Linked DNA regions of Homo sapiens: region 2 is linked to region 1. A link means that fine-mapping ties the variant in region 1 to the expression of a gene that starts in the linked region. Tissue or cell type: skeletal muscle. Region 1 holds a variant in brackets; the other region holds the start of a gene. All regions are shown on one strand. Distances are from middle to middle.

Region 1 (8,108 bases):
AATCTAATTTGGAAGAAGAGAAATATATGCACCCCTTCTTGGCAGACTGCTTACAGGCAAAGGAAGCAATGGCTGCTGTAGGGAAAGTGAGCAAATGATGTTGCTCTAGAGGTCATCTGGGTGCTCATGTCTTCCTTCTGCCCAATTCTCAGGAGCATTAGTCCTGGAGCTAGTGCTTGTGGGTCAACAGAAGATTCAACTAAATCACTATAAAAGTGAAGGTCCAGAGTAAGGTAGACACTTCCCATGACCAGAATTATTAATTTGCAGTAAAGAAAATACTTTTTTTCTTTTTAAAAAGGGAAGGTTGCTTTTTTCAGATTTACATAAAAGTAAAAAAAACCCTACCTGTAATCACAGCACTTTGGGTGGCTAAGGTGGGAGGATCAGTTGAGACCAGGAGTTCAAGACCAGCCTGGGCAACATGGTAAGACCCTGTCTCTTCTAAAGAATTAAAAAAATATTATCCTGGCCTGGTGGTACACATCTTTAGTCTCAGGAGGCTGAGGCAGGAGGATCACTGAGCCCAGCAGTTTGAGGTTACAGTGAACCGTGATTGCACCACTGCACTTCAGCATGGACAACAAAGCAAGAACCTGTCTCTAAAGCAAATAAACAAACAAAAAAGTAAATAAACTCCTATTTAAGTAACTCTTAACCCAGATGCTGTAAAATAAGAAATATTGTGTGTGTGGGAGTAAGAGTAAGCCTGGAGAATGGATTCCATTTCTACTGTTTGTTTGTAGAAACCATGATTATGGGGCTATGGGGCTGTAATTCTCTCTGAGATTTGAGAAGAGAGACATAAATATAAATAATAAATATATCTTCTTATATTTATTGAATATATAAATTCAATATTGAATTTACGTTCAAATTCAATAGGCAGCAGTGTGCAGGAGACATACTTAAATAGTTTGCATACTGTATTAGTCTGTTTTCGTGCTGCTGATAAAGACATACATGAGACTAGGTAATTTATAAAGAAAAAGAGGTTTCATGAATTCACAATTCCACGTGGCTGGGGAGGCCTCATAATCATGGCAGAAGGCAAAAGGCATATTTACATGGTGGCAGGGAACAGAAAGAATGAGAGCCAAGTGAAAGGGGAACCCTCTTACGAAACCATCAGATCTTGTGAGAGTTATCCACTACCATGAGAACAGAATCTTCTACCAGATACACTAAATCATCTCTCTCAAGTTCAAAGTTCCACAAATCTCTAGAGCAGGGGCAAAATGCCATCAGTCTCTTTGCTAAAACACAGCAAGACTCACCTTTATTCCAGTTCCCAACAAGGTCCTCATCTCCATCTGAGACCACCTCAGCCTGGATTTCATTGTCCATATCATTATCAGCATTTTGGTCAAAGCCATTCAACAAGTCTCCAAACTTTCCCACATGTTTCTGTATTCTTCTGAGCCCTCCAAAGTGTTCCAACCTCTGCCTGTTATCCAGTTCCAAAGCTGCTTCAACATTATTGGGTATCTTTACAGCAGCATCCCCACTCTACTGGTACCAATTTACTGTATTAGTCTGTTTTCATGCTGCTGATATAGACATACATGAAACTGAGTAATTTATAAAGAAAAAGAGATTTAATAAACTCACAGTTCCACATGGCTGGAGTGGCCTCACAATCATGGTGGAAGGCAAAAGGCATGTCTTACATGCCTCACAATCATGGTGGAAGGCAAAAAGCAGGGAACAGAGAGAACGAGAGCTATGCAAAAGGGATTTCTCCTTATAAAGCCATCAGATGTCTTGAGACGTACTACCACAAGAATAGTACAGGAGAAATCACCCCCGTGATTCAATTATCTCCCCCCGGGTCCTTTCCACACATGTGAGAATTATGAGAGCAACAATTCAAGATAAGATTTGGGTGGGGACACAGCCAAACCATATCACAAAAACATGCAAACACATCTTAGTTGAATAAACCTTGCAAAACCCCGTACACCAAATGCCTTGCTTAAGCCTGCCTTCTGTCCCATGGTCACGCATTCACTGCAGTGAGGATATTGATAGGTTTCTGTAAAGATGACATGAACTTTGGGATAGATTTTGTAATAAAGCTGCCTTCTAGATGTCCAATTTCTAAATCTGCACTAACTTGTTTTCAGAATATAAAATGTATTATTATAATTTAAATTTTACAGTCATATTTTTGAAAGAAAAGGTTTTTAAAAATTTTAGTTCTATTTCAATCTGAAAAAGTAAAACAGTTCATAACACAAAAACAAAGATGCTGTAACAGTGTCAGAAGAATAGTCTTTAACACATATTGAGATTTATGTGTATATTTCTGACTAGTTCTCTAAAACCACACTAATAAAGGGTTCGATCTTTTGATGATGATAATAAAACTATTTTATCCATAAGATATACACTAAAGTGAATATAATTAATAGATTCATTATCTTTTATTAAATCATTTATATTCATATTTTCTTCCCTACCCAAGCAGAATCCTTTAGAACACATTCCACATTAGTTTACTTTTACACCACCTACAACTTAAATTAGGGTAAATTATCAAATAATATTAGTTGAAGAAATTCATTTATTTTTACCCTGATTCTGGCTCCCTTTTATGTGTTTGTGGTATGGCTAACAGTCTGTGGACCTTAAAATATCTTAGAGAAAATGACAAATTAGAAAATCCTTTAGACATTTTCAACAACATCTTTCTCCTTAAAATTTTGCACTCAGGAGGATTTCTTCCTACAATTTTCTACTTTTTCTTCAAATTAAGCATTTATATTCACTCCAAATTCTTTTCTATTTGACAATAGATGTAAGTTGATAAATAACTGTAACCTTTTATAAAGCAGGCTTTAACTTTATATATAACAAATACATATTAAAGTCCATCCACATTTGGGTCAGCAATATGTCTTCTTGATTTCTGTCTTAAAAAGAAATAACCAGTCAACCATGCAATTTGCTTTCATAATTTTGCCCACAACACAGCTGTTCTTCATTAGTACATATATTTTCCGATCAGGGTAAATTTCCAGATAGTAATAATTTTTTTAAAATTAGCTTTTTCTTCTCTGGGCTTAAATAAAAATGATTTTCAGACATTGTTACAAGCTGATGATCTTTCATCAATTTCTTTAACCAAACTTAAACTTTTGAGAATGTCTAAGGGTTTACTTTGTCATCAAGTCAAAACCAACAATGTAGGTGTTATCTTTATCCCAGAAATCATGTCATAGTGAACCAAGATGGCCTTGTATATGTATAGTATAAGAACTAAGTATAAGATGACATGCCAGGAACAGGTTGGCTTTCTAGAGCTTTGTCCAGTCACCTTCTGAACAAAAGCAGATGAACTTTCTTGTTATCATAAAGCCTTGGTCCCAATCAAAAGGCAAATAGCCCAGTGAGGATGGTACTTAAAATTATCAGCCATTTTTACTTTTGTGTAATAGAGAAAAACAAGTTTTAAGACATCTGTAGAAAGAAGAGACTACAAAGACTGAACAACTGAAAAGAGGCAAAAGGTAGCATAGAAAGCAAAAAAAA[A/G]AAAAAAAAAAAAGAAAAAAAAGGACCTAGTAAGAGAAAATTGTGGCCAAAGATAAATGTCAAAGACTGTCTCTGGTATCAGCTACAGTTATGTTACTAAGATCTATCCACCGTACTCATTCTAGTTACCACATTCTACAATAAGTTGATAAGTTAAGTAGTAGTCTTTTCTAGGAGTAATACAAAAGATTCTCTTTACTTAAAACCCTAGAGTTCAGAAATTAAAAATGAAGAAGAACAAATGAAAGCCATAGTTCTAATGCAGAAGTTGGGAGCAGAGTCCCAGTGTATATTAATTGTGTGGTATGTAAAATGGTTTCGAGGAACAACTGTAGAATAATGAAAAGGACTATGATGAATATATTCTCCTATTGGGATGAAGCGTATGTATTGCAGAAATAAACGCCAATATTTTTTCCATACAGGGATTAATTACATGGTCAACAGCTGGAATTTACAAGGAGGCAAATTAAATAAAATAGCAGACAAGCATGAACTGCATTCCCACAAAAGCCATAAAATGGGAATACCAAGAGAACTGGCAAATGTAAGTCTTCACCTGTTTTCTTGGACACAGCTTTCCACACACAAGTTGGGGAGTGGAAATTTGTGAGTAGCACACTGTGTGCCACATTGGAAAGATTCAATATGAACATTTTTTCTTTTTTTATTATTATTTTACTTTAAGTTCCAGGATACATGTGCAGAATGTGCAGGTTTGTTACATAGTTATACGTGTGCCATGATGGTTTGCTGCACCTATCAACCCATCACCTAGGTTTCAAGCCCCACATGCGTTAGCTATTTGCCCTGATGCTCTCCCTCCTCTTGCTCCCCTCCCAATAGGCCCCAGTGTGTGTTGTTCCCCTCCCTGTGTCCATGTGTTCCCATTGTTCAACTCACACTTATGAGTGAGAACATCAGGTGTTTGGTTTTCTGTTCCTGTGTAACTTGGCTGAGGATAATGGCTTCCAGCTTCATCCATGTCCCTGCAAAGGAAACGATCTCATTCCTTTTTATGGCTTCATAGTAGTCCATGGTGTATATGTATCACATTTTCTTTATGCAGTCTATCATTGGTGGGCATTTGGGTTGGTTCCATGTCTTTTCTATTGTAAATAGTGCTGCAATAAACATATGTGTGCATGTATATTTATAATAGAATTATTTATATTCCTTTGGGTATATGCCCAGTAATGGGATTGCTGGATTAAATGGCATTTCTGGTTCTAGATCCTTGCAGAATTGCCACACTGTCTTCCACAATGGTTGAACCAATTCACATTCCCACCAACAGTGTAAAAGTGTTTCTATTTCTCCACAGTCTTGCCAGTATCTGTTGTTTTTTGAGTTTTTAATAATTGCCATTCAAATCTCTGAGTAGAACAATAACGAGTTCTGAAATTGAGGCAGTAATAAATAGCCTACGAACCAAAAAAAAGCCCATGACCAGACGGAGTCACAGCCGACTTCTACCAGAGGTACAAAGGGGAGCTGGTACCATTTCTTCTGAAACTATTCCAAACAACTGAAAAGGGGGGATTCCTCCCTAATTCATTTTATGAGGCCAGTATCATCCTGATACCAAAACCTGGCAGACACACAACAAAAAAAGAAAACTTCAGGACAATATTCCTGATGAACATCAATGTGAAAATCCTCAATAAAATCCTGGCAAACCAAATCTAGCAGCACATTAAAAAGCACATCCATCACAATCAATTCGGGTTCATCCCTGGGATGCAAGGCTGGTTCAACATACACAAATCAATAAACATAATCCATCACATAAACAGGACCAATGACAAAAACCACACAATCATCTCAATAGATACAGAAAAGGCCTCCAGTAAAATTCAACATTTCTTCATGTTAAGAACTCTCAATAAACTAGGTATTGAAATAATCAAAATAATAAGAGCTATTTATGACAAACCCACAATATTAAAATAATAAGAGCTATTTATGACAAAACCACAGCCAATATCATACAAAATGGGCAAAAGCTGGAAGCATTCCCTTTGAAAAGCAGCATAAGACAAGGATGCCCTCTCTTACCCCTTCTATTCAATATAGTATTGGAAGTGCTGGCCAGGGCAATCAGGCAAGAGACAGAAATAAAGAGTACTCAAATAGGAAGAGAGGAAGTCAAATTGTCTGTTTGCAGATGACATCATGCAACTTCGGCAAAATCAACGTCCAAAAATCACAAGCATTCCTATACACCAACAATAGGCAAGCAGAGAGCCAAATCATGAGTGACCTCCCATTCACAATTGTTACAAAGAGAATAAAATACCTAGGAATACAGCTAACAAGGGGTGTGAAGGACCTCTTCAAAAAGAACTATAAACCACTGCTCAAAGAAATAAGAGAGGACACAAAGAAATGAAAAACATTCCATGCTCATGGATAGGAAGAATCAATATCATGGAAATGGCCATACTGCCCAAATTAATTTATAGATTCAATGCTATTCCCATCAAACTACCATTGACATTCTTCACAGAATTAGAAAAAACTACTTTGAAATTCATATGGAACCAAAAAAGAGGCTGTATAGCCAAGACAATTCTAAGCAAAAAGAACAAAGCTGGAGGCATCATGCTACCTGACTTCAAACTATACTATAAGGCTACAGTAACCAAAACAGCATGGTACTGGTACCAAAACAGATATATAGACCAATGGAACAGAACAGAGGCCTCAGAAATAATGCCACACATCTGCAACCATCTGATCTTTGACAAACCTGACAAAAACAAGCAATATGGAAAGGACTCCCTATTTTTAATAAATGGTGCTGGGAAAATTGGACATAGGCAGAAAACTTAAACTGGATGCCTTCTTTACACCTCATACAAAAATTAACTCAAGATGGACTTAAAGACTTAAATATAAAACCCCAAATCATAAAAACCGTAGAAAAAAACCTAGGCAATACCATTCAGGATACAGGCATGGGCAAAGATTTTATGAAGAAATTGCCAAAAGCAATTGCAACAAAAGCTAAAATTGACAAATTGGATCTAATTAAAGAGCTTCTGCACAGCAAAAGAAACTATCATCAGAATGAAAAGGCAACCTACAGAATGGGAGAAAATTTTTGCAATCTACCCATCTGACAAAGGTCTATTATCCAGAATTTACAAGGTACTTAAGCAAATTTACCAGAAAAAAAACAAACAACACCATCAAAAAGTGGGCAAAGGATATAAACAGACACTTTTCGATATCAACAATTTTATGCAACTATTTTTAAAAACCTGTGCCTCAGGATAAGAATGTTTCTAATGTACTTGAACTTGAGTGAGGACACCTGCCCAACAATTTCCTCTTAAAGAAGTGGCTGGAGCTAAAGGCATAGTCAAGGTTAATACTCCTTTTTCTTTATCCGAACTCTCCCAAATCAGTTAGCGTTTAGGCTCTTTTTCATCAAATATGAAAATCCAGCCCAGTTCATGGCCCGTTTGGCAACAACCCTTAGACACTTTACAGCCCTAGACCCTGAAGGGTCAGAAGGCCGTCTTATTCTCAATATGCATTTTATTACCCAATCTGCTCTCAACATTAAATAAAGGTCCAAAAATTAAATTCTGGCCCTCAAACCCCACAACAGGACTTAATTAACCTCGACTTCAAGATGTGCAATAATAGAGAAGAGTTGCAATTACTTGTCTCTGCTGTGAGAGAAACCCCAGCCACATCTCCAGCACAAAAGAACTTCAAAATGCCTAAACCACAGCGGTCAGGTGTTCCTTCAGGACTTCCTCCCCCAGGATCTTGCTTCAAGTGCCAGAAATCTGGCCACTGGGCCAAGGGATGCCTGCAGCCCAGGATTCCTCCTAAGCCATGTCCCATCTGTGTGGGATCCCACTGGAAATTGGACTGTCCAACTGGCCCAAGGCTCTGACTCCTTCCCAGATCTTCTCGGCTTAGCGGCTGAAGACTGACTCTGCCTGATTGCTTCGGAATCCTCCTGGACCATCACAGACGCTTTGGGTAACTCTTAACAGTGGAGGATAAGTCCATCCCCTTCTTAATCAATATGGAACCTACCCACTCCAAATTACCTTCTTTTCCAGGGGCTGTTTCCCTTGCCTCCATAACTGTTGTGTGTATTGATGGCCAGGCTTCTAAACCTCTTAAAACTCCCCAACTCTGGTGCCAACTTGGACAGTATTCTTTTATGCACTCCTTTTTAGTTATCCCCACCTGCCCAGTTCCCTTATTAGGCTGAGACATTTTAACTAAATTATCTGCTTCCCTGACTATTCCTAGGCTACAGCCACACCTCATTGCTGCCCTTTTCCCCAGTTCAAAGCCTCCTTCACATCCTCCCCTTGTATCTCCCCACCTTAATCCACAAGTATAGGACACCTCTACTCCCTCCTTGGCAACCAATCGTGCACCCCTTACCATCCCATTAAAACCTAATCACCCTTACCACGCTCGACATCGCCAATATCCCACCCTATAGCACGCTTTAAAAGAATTAAAGCCTGTTATCACTCGCCTGTTACAGCATGGCCTTTTAAAGCCTATAAACCCTCCTTACAATTCCCCCATTTCAC
Region 2 (8,108 bases), 240 kb after region 1:
CATTCCCCGTCCAGCTTTGTTCCATTGCTGGTGAGTAGCTGCGTTCCTTTGGAGGAGAAGAGGCGCTCTGATTTTTAGAATTTTCAGCTTTTCTGCTCTGGTTCCCCCCATCTTTGTGGTTTTATCTACCTTCGGTCTTTGATGATGGTGATGTACAGATGGGGTTTTGGTGTGGATGTCCTTTCCGTTTGTTAGTATTCCTTCTAACAGTCAGGACCCTCAGCTGCAGGTCTGTTGGAGTTTGCTGGAGGTCCACTCCAGACCCTGTTTGCCTGAGTATCACCAGCAGAGGCTGCTGAACAGAAAATATTGCAGAATGGCCATTGTTGCTGCCTGATCCTTCCCTGGAAACTTCATCTCAGAGGTGCACCCGGCTGGATGAGGTGTCAGTCGGCCCCTACTGGGAGTTGCCTCCCAGTTAGGCTACTCGGGGTCAGGGACCCATTTGAGGAGGCAGTCTGTCCATTCTCAGATCTCAAACTCTGTGCTGGTAGAACCACTACTCTCTTCAAAGCTGTCAGAAGGGGACATTTAAGTCTGCAGAAGTGTCTGCTGCCTTTTGTTCAGCTATGCCCTGCCCCCAGGGGTGGAGTCTACAGAGGCAGGCAGGCCTGGTTGAACTGAGGTGGGCTCCATCTAGTTTGAGCTTCCTGGCCACTTTGTTTACCTATTCAAGCCTCAGCAATGGAGGATGCCCCTCCCCCAGCCTCGCTGCTGCCTTGCAGTTGGATCTCAGACTGCTGTGTTATCAGTAAGCGAGGCTCCGTGCACGCCTCTTATTTTTAATGTTCGGTTTGCTTCATGAGTCCTTGTGTCGAATACTATTCTGGGCAATGATTATTCATTAATACAAATAAACATTAGATTATAGGAAGAGTAAGCTTCCCATGATAACCGAAGTTATTATCAGATCCTAAAAGCAATAATTAAAAACCCTGTTCCCAGGTAGAATTGTAAAGTGGATGACTCCTGCATCCAGCATTCTCCCATTCATTTTTAGAGCCATCCAACTCCCTCAGTCACTTCACTGCCATTCCCTTTCCCAAGCCCCGGCTGCCGTCTAGATAGTCAGAGCTTCTTGGCCCATTGCAAGCACTCATCATGATGTTTAGCCACCAACCCAGCATTGTTTGGCATCTTTCTAAATTTCTTGGTTTTCACTCAAACCTCCCATAATCCAAATGATGACTGCTATAGAATTCCATCAGAAGACTTATGAAGACAAGTGATTTGACAGCAAAGAGTCAGAATTCTTAGGTTACAGTGGCAAAATCCTGTAGGCTCCATGTCTGTCATATATTGCTATTTGTTCAGTCTTACTTTGATCTACTCACTAAACAATTCATCCTCTATAGAACTGAGGGTGCAAAGGTGGTTGGTAGTGGGTTAAAGAGGAAAGTCAAATCAGAAATGAAGAAGAGGTTGAAGAGACCACATGTAGATTAAAAATAAACTTTTTTGGGGCATTGATTTTCATTTAGTCACAATATTTTTATTTTCAAATAACATTAAAGAAAAACAAACAGTCTTTATGTTTTTTAAAGGAGAAGCAGAGAAATATTACACTATTCCTAGTCAAAAGTAATGTTAGCAGGAATGTCTAGACTATTTCTATGTGTTTATTTCTCTTTATTTTAGTTAAATGATAGATTTACTCACTTGCAACTAACTCTTGCTATATTTCTCCCATTTCAAAATTCTTAAACTATTGTAGCTAAAAATTGTATCTATTTTACTTAGCTGCCTTTGGTAGCATTTGAAAGTGAATGCAAAATTTCTGGACAAAATAGAAACAGGTACATGGGCTAATATAGGAATATACACAATACTGTTAACTGTCCCAAGATTTTTCATTGATTATGTCTTCCATGGTGAGATTTCAGGCATAAAATTGGTTTGGGTTAGTACAAAGTCTGGCCCAACATATGCTTACTTGTAGTTCTTCCTAATAAGTCAAACAAGCTCACATTTATGGTGCTGAATATATTCTAGATTCATTGTATCTGTAGTTGCTAAAAATTTAGTTCCATGCCTTAGGATGGTATTAGAATGTCCATGATAAGAAAAATAAGTGCAGCAAAATAAAAGAAATGCCACGCCTATCTTTCTGTATTATTTTTTCCACTGGAGAAGGACAGATTTTACTCATTAAAACTACAAAAGTCTGAGACCAACTGCTCCATATTCTTTTGTGTTCGTTAAATGTTGTTATTTGGAGGTGACTTAATTAGACTAAAGCTAGAAGAGAAAACAATAGAATGTCAAAGATGCTTTTCAAGTTGTAAACTAATGTTTTAAGTTATAAACTACTTGATACTATTTTCTTAATTAAAAAGATATTTCTGAATCGAAAAGATCAAAGCTTCTGAGTAAATTTAGAAAGCATTTTTTTGTCATTTACAGAAAAGGGCTTTAAGAGCCTATGTTCCTTTGGCTTTAAGAGCTCTTCACTGTGACTTCAAAGTAATCATTTTCAGATTAATAAACTGGAGCTCGTCTTTGGAATTATCAGTTTTTCTTTTATTACAGAATCTGAGGTTAGCCAGAATCCATCTGCAGAACATGAGGCAGAAGGGAGAAACACCTAACAAGGTGAGGCCTTCCTTAACTATTTTAACACAAGCAATTAACCATTTATACTCACTTAAAAGCAGACAGCTGGGATGATGGTGTCTGCTAAAAAAAAAAAGTGTAATGAAATGTTCTTTAGTTTTTTGATCTTTAGTAAAATTTCATCTTCGTATAAAATTTTATTAACCATTCCACTAACTTGTTACTTCTCCACTCCACCTCCCCACTCCCTTTAGAATCCTTAGTTTGAAGACATAATTCTTTAAATGATCTGTCTCAGGGAGGGGGGATCTTGTTACTTTTAAGGACTGCAAATAGCATTATAAACTTTGTTTTTATTTTTAAATACGAATATCGACTGAAGCTCTCAAATCAATCAATATTGTTGCCAAATTTTGTAAAACGCACTGTCTTAGCTCTCTAACGATAGAGTTCTAATATAAATGTAAAAACCAACCTATCAACATGTTTTCAAAAATACTTTTTGTAAAGAACAGTACAATTTTGTGGTGTCCAAATATTCCTTTCTTTCTTACAAAATATTATTGGATCTGTCCAGTTCATAAATATTCCTGCCCTCTCTTCCTCCCTCCCTGCCTCTCTCTCCCTGCAGTTTTTTTGATGTTTGTTCTTTTCTTTCCATTTTCTAGTTATTAATTGGTTCAATGGATGACCTTTGTGCGACACTGTTATACCTTATCAGCCTCGCCAGGGCCCCCGCGCCGCCCAATCCCAGCAACTCTGGTTCTCCTGTGACCCCAAGCCTTCCAGATCCCTGGGTTTCCCCCCACGGGACTGTCACATTCTTCCCCGCCGGAGACGCCAGTCGCGGGGCCTCCTCCCTGGGGTGTGAGCAGGTCGGCGCGCCACACTTCTCTAGGTGGCCGGACGCGCGCCCAGGGAGGAGCTGGCGGCGGGGCCCAGGCTGTTCCGGCTGCGGCACGCCAGGGGATGTGGTTAGCCCTGAGCCTGGAGGCCGAAGGTGGGCAGGCAACACTCCCACCATGTTTCGGAGGAGAATACACTAGGCTAGCCTAACGACACTCGGAGTGCGAGCTGCGGCTGGGGTAGGGGCACCCCTTTCCAGCGGGCGCGTGGGTCACCAAGGAGCAGTTCTCCGGGACCCGTTGCGTCAGAGGGACTGGGCGGGGCTGGGCGGGGCAGGACGGGGGCGGCGCTCAGGAACCCTGGAACCCGCTGGCCCTGAGGCCACGGACCGAGACGTGGTGCTGAGCCCCTGCGCGGTTTCTGGTGCGTAGAGACTGTAAATCGCTGCGCTTCTCAGTCATCATCATCCCAGCTTTTCCCGGCTCGAATTCAGCCTCCAACTCAAGCTCGCGGGAAAGACTACCTGAGAGGAGAAAAGCTTCTGTCCCTGGACCTTCTTCTGAGGGTGGTGAGGTTTGTTTAGGGTCGCAGAAGCAGGGAGGACTGACTCAGCCCTCACAGAGAAGAGGTCTGGAAAGTCCTGGGGAACTCGCAGGGCACGGGCCGCTGTCGCGGTTGGGAGGCGAGGGCGCAGCGCTGGGGTTGTAGATTCCAAGACCCCTGAGGGTGGCTGTGTTGGTTTCTCGCAGGAGTCGGAGGCTCCCTGCTTTCCAGCCGCCCAGTGACCCAAGCTTAATCTTCAGCACCACTTGGGGCGACCTTTTCGGTGCAAACCTACGATTCTGTTTCTCAGGATTCCTCCCCATCCCGCTTCGCCCCGGAAAAGCTGACAAGAACTTCAGGTGTAAGCCCTGAGTAGTGAGGATCTGCGGTCTCCGTGGAGAGCTGTGCCTGGAAGAGAAGGACGCTGGTGGGGGCTGAGATCAGAGCTGTCTTCTGGCCCAGTTGCCCCCATGCTTCTGTCATGGCTAACAGTTCTAGGGGCTGGAATGGTCGTCCTGCACTTCTTGCAGAAACTCCTGTTCCCTTACTTTTGGGATGACTTCTGGTTCGTGTTGAAGGTGGTGCTCATTATAATTCGGCTGAAGAAGTATGAAAAGAGAGGGGAGCTGGTGACTGTGCTGGATAAATTCTTGAGTCATGCCAAAAGACAACCTCGGAAACCTTTCATCATCTATGAGGGAGACATCTACACCTATCAGGATGTAGACAAAAGGAGCAGCAGAGTGGCCCATGTCTTCCTGAACCATTCCTCTCTGAAAAAGGGGGACACGGTGGCTCTGCTGATGAGCAATGAGCCGGACTTCGTTCACGTGTGGTTCGGCCTCGCCAAGCTGGGCTGCGTGGTGGCCTTTCTCAACACCAACATTCGCTCCAACTCCCTCCTGAATTGCATCCGCGCCTGTGGGCCCAGAGCCCTAGTGGTGGGCGCAGGTAGAGTATGGGGTGTGGTCTGCCTATACAGAATGGCAGCCCACCTGCTTTCATACCCTTTTTTTTTTCTTTAGGATAATTCGTAACTAATATTTTGGGTGAGTGAAGTGTGCATGTTAAGAGTACAAAATAGTTTTATGATTCTATGCTGGTTTAACAACTGTCTCCTCCCTTCAGGCACGTAGTTTCAGAAAACTTTTATGAAATCTCTGCTTCCTACCATTTTGAGACAGGGACAGTTTTACTGCTATTGGTTCCTTCAGTGAGTGCAAGAACACACAGAGAACTTGGTCACTTCTAAATTTTATCAGCTCTGACAAAATGGTGAATAGGAAAGTTATCTGACTTCATTGTGACACGTCTACCTACCTCTAATTGTACTTTATCAGGGATGACTACATTTGCAGAAGAGATATGTTTAAAGGAAGGTACCTGAATTCCTTTCTTCATGTCTGCTCTTATTTTATACTGTCTGCAAGCTAGGACTTGCCTAGCAAGGTTGCGCTCCCACCTGTGAGCCAGAACGTGGGCTCTTGGCAGACTCTAGGAGCCTTTCTGTTTCTTCTTCTTATCCTTCCATGCATCCTTTTCTTTTTTTGACTAAGTTCTACCCTTCCTCCTCCCCCTGCCTTGGAGTTAGGACATCTTAGGCTACACGTATTTTCACTGAACTGTAAAGAAAAGCCTGGGGTTTAGTGGCTAATTAGTAAAGAAGCTAGGAAGATGGGTTGCTTAATGAAATAGAAGTGAAATATGAAAAATGATACTTATTTGGTGTAATCTAAATGGTTTATGCAGAGTCTTCTTCAATGGGGAAGGAAGGTGCGGAAAGAGGAAGATCCATTGCAAGGACCATAATGAAAATATTTAAGTATTTTAGATTAATAGATACATACCAATACCTTGTATAAAGTTTTTAAACTCACAGAACAATATGGAAAAATATATTTATACCCTGGTGATCTCTAAGGTATAGAACTTTTCAAATAACCTTTATGATATAATATTTGTATATCAAACCAAAGTGAGTTAGGCAGTATATGGAAAATGGGCTAGCCCTTCAAGGCTATCACTGTTCCTAGTTCTTTTCAGTTCAACTTGTGGTCTGATAAAGTGGCAAATGTATACTTTTTCTTATTTATTATTATTTTTTATTATTATACTTTAAGTTCTAGAGTACATGTGCACAAAGTGCAGGTTTGTTATGTATGTATACATGTGCCATGTTAGTGTGCTGCACCCATTAACTCATCATTTACATTAGGTATTCCTCCTAATGCTATCCCTCCCCACTCCCCCCACCCCACGACAGGCCCTGGTGTGTGATGTTCCCCACCCTGTGTCCAAGTATTCTCATTTTTCAGTTCCCACCTATGAGTGAGAACATGTGGTGTTTGGTTTTCTGTCCTTGTGATAGTTTGCTCAGAATGATGGTTTCCAGCTTCATCCATGTCCCTACAAAGGACATGAACTCATCCTTTTTTATGGCTGCATGGTATTCCATGGTGCATATGTGCCTCATTTTCTTAATCAAGTCTATCATTGATGGACATTTGGGTTGGCTCCAAGTCTTTGCTATTGAGAAAAGTGCCGCAATAAACATACATGTGTGTGTGTCTTTATAGAGGCATGATTTAGAATCCTTTGGGTATATACCCGGTAATGGGATGGCTGGGTCAAATGGTATTTCTAGTTCTAGATCCTTGAGGAATCACCACACCGTCTTCCACAATGGTTGAACTAATTTACACTCCCACCAACAGTGTCAAAGTGTTCCTATTTCTCCACATCCTCTCCCGCACCTATTGTTTCCTGACTTTTTAATGATCGCCATTCTAACTGGTGTGAGATGGTATCTCATTGTGGTTTTGATTTGCATTTCTCTGATGGCCAGTGATGATGAGCATTTTTTCATGTGTCTGTTGGCTACATAAATGTCTTCTTTGGAGAAGTGTCTGTTCATATCCTTTGCCCACTTTTTGATGGGGTTGTTTGATTTTTTTCTTGTAAATTTCTTTAAGTTCTTTGTAGATTCTAGATATTAGCCATTTGTCAGATGGGTAGATTGTAAAAATTTTCTCCCATTCTATAGGTTGCCTGTTCACTCTGATGGCAGTTTCTTTTGCTGTACAGAAGCTCTTTAGTTTAATTAGATCCCATTTGTCAATTTTGGCTTTTGTTGCCATTGCTTTTGGTGTTTTAGACATGAAGTCCTTGCCCATGCCTATGTCCTGAATGGTATTGCCTAGATTTTCTTCTATGGTTCTAATGGTTTTAGGTCTAACATTTAAGTCTTTAATCCATCTTGAATTAAATTTTGTATAAGGTGTAAGGAAGGTATCCAGTTTCAGCTTTCTACATATGGCTAGCCAGTTTTCCCAGCACCATTTATTAAATAGGGAATCGTTTCCCCATTTCTTGTTTTTGTCAGGTTTGTCAAAGATCAGATGGCTGTAGATGTGTGGTATTATTTCTGAGGGCTCTGTTCTGCTCCGTTGGTCTATATCTCTGTTTTGGTACTAGTACCATGCTGTTTTGGTTGCTGTAGCCCTGTAGTATAGTTTGAAGTCAGGTATCGTGATGCCTCCAGCTTTGCTCTTTTTGCTTAGGATTGTCTTGGCAATGCAGGCTCTTTTTTGGTTCCGTATGAACTTTAAAGTAGTTTTTTCCAATTCTGTGAAGAAAGTCATTGGTAGCTTGATGGGGATGGCATTGAATCTATAAGTTACCTTGGGCAGTATGGCCATTTTCATGATATTGATTCTTCCTATCCATGGGCATGGAATGTTCTTCCATTTGTTTGTGTCCTCTTTTTATTTCGTTGAGCAGTGGTTTGTAGTTCTCCTTGAAGAGGTCCTTCACATCCCTTGTAAGTTGGATTCCTAGGTATTTTATTCTCTTTGTAGCAATTGTGAATGGGAGATCACTCATGATTTGGCTCTCTGTTTGTCTGTTTTTGGTGTAAAGGAATGCTTGTGATTTTTGCACATTGATTTTCTGTCCTGAGACTGCTGAAGTTGCTTATCAGCTTAAGGAGATTTTGGGCTGAGATGCTGGGGTTCTCTAAATATACAATCATGTCATCTGCAAACAGGGACAATTTGACTTCCTCTTTTCCTAATTGAATACCTTTTATTTCTTTCTCCTGCCTGATTGCCCTGGCCAGAATTTCCAACACTATGTTGAATAGGAGTGGTGAGAGAGGGCATCCCTGT

Alleles and levels. Positions count from the first base shown, and alleles are read on the strand shown. Sizes are in standard deviations (SD) of each study's normalised expression.
In carriers of allele G in region 1, the expression in skeletal muscle of the gene that starts at base 3,763 in region 2 tends to be higher than with A alone (large effect, 1.1 SD a copy in FUSION).

The links. PIP is the estimated chance that this variant, and not a neighbour inherited with it, causes the effect.
Region 2: SLC27A6 starts here. The variant in region 1 is fine-mapped to the expression of SLC27A6 in skeletal muscle (FUSION, PIP 0.95).

The regions. Positions count from the first base shown.
Region 1 is chr5:128,724,495-128,732,602 of GRCh38, forward strand. It overlaps LOC105379168 (a long non-coding RNA gene), which reads left to right. Exons shown (of 7, transcript XR_001742460.1): 4 at 3,960-4,081. Among named protein-coding and RNA genes, the nearest start is that of FBN2, 190 kb to the left of the region's middle. The variant A/G (reference allele first, on the strand shown) is at 3,535.
Region 2 is chr5:128,961,726-128,969,833 of GRCh38, forward strand. It overlaps SLC27A6 (solute carrier family 27 member 6), which reads left to right and starts at 3,763. Exons shown (of 10, transcript NM_001017372.3): 1 at 3,763-4,893. The coding sequence starts at 4,413.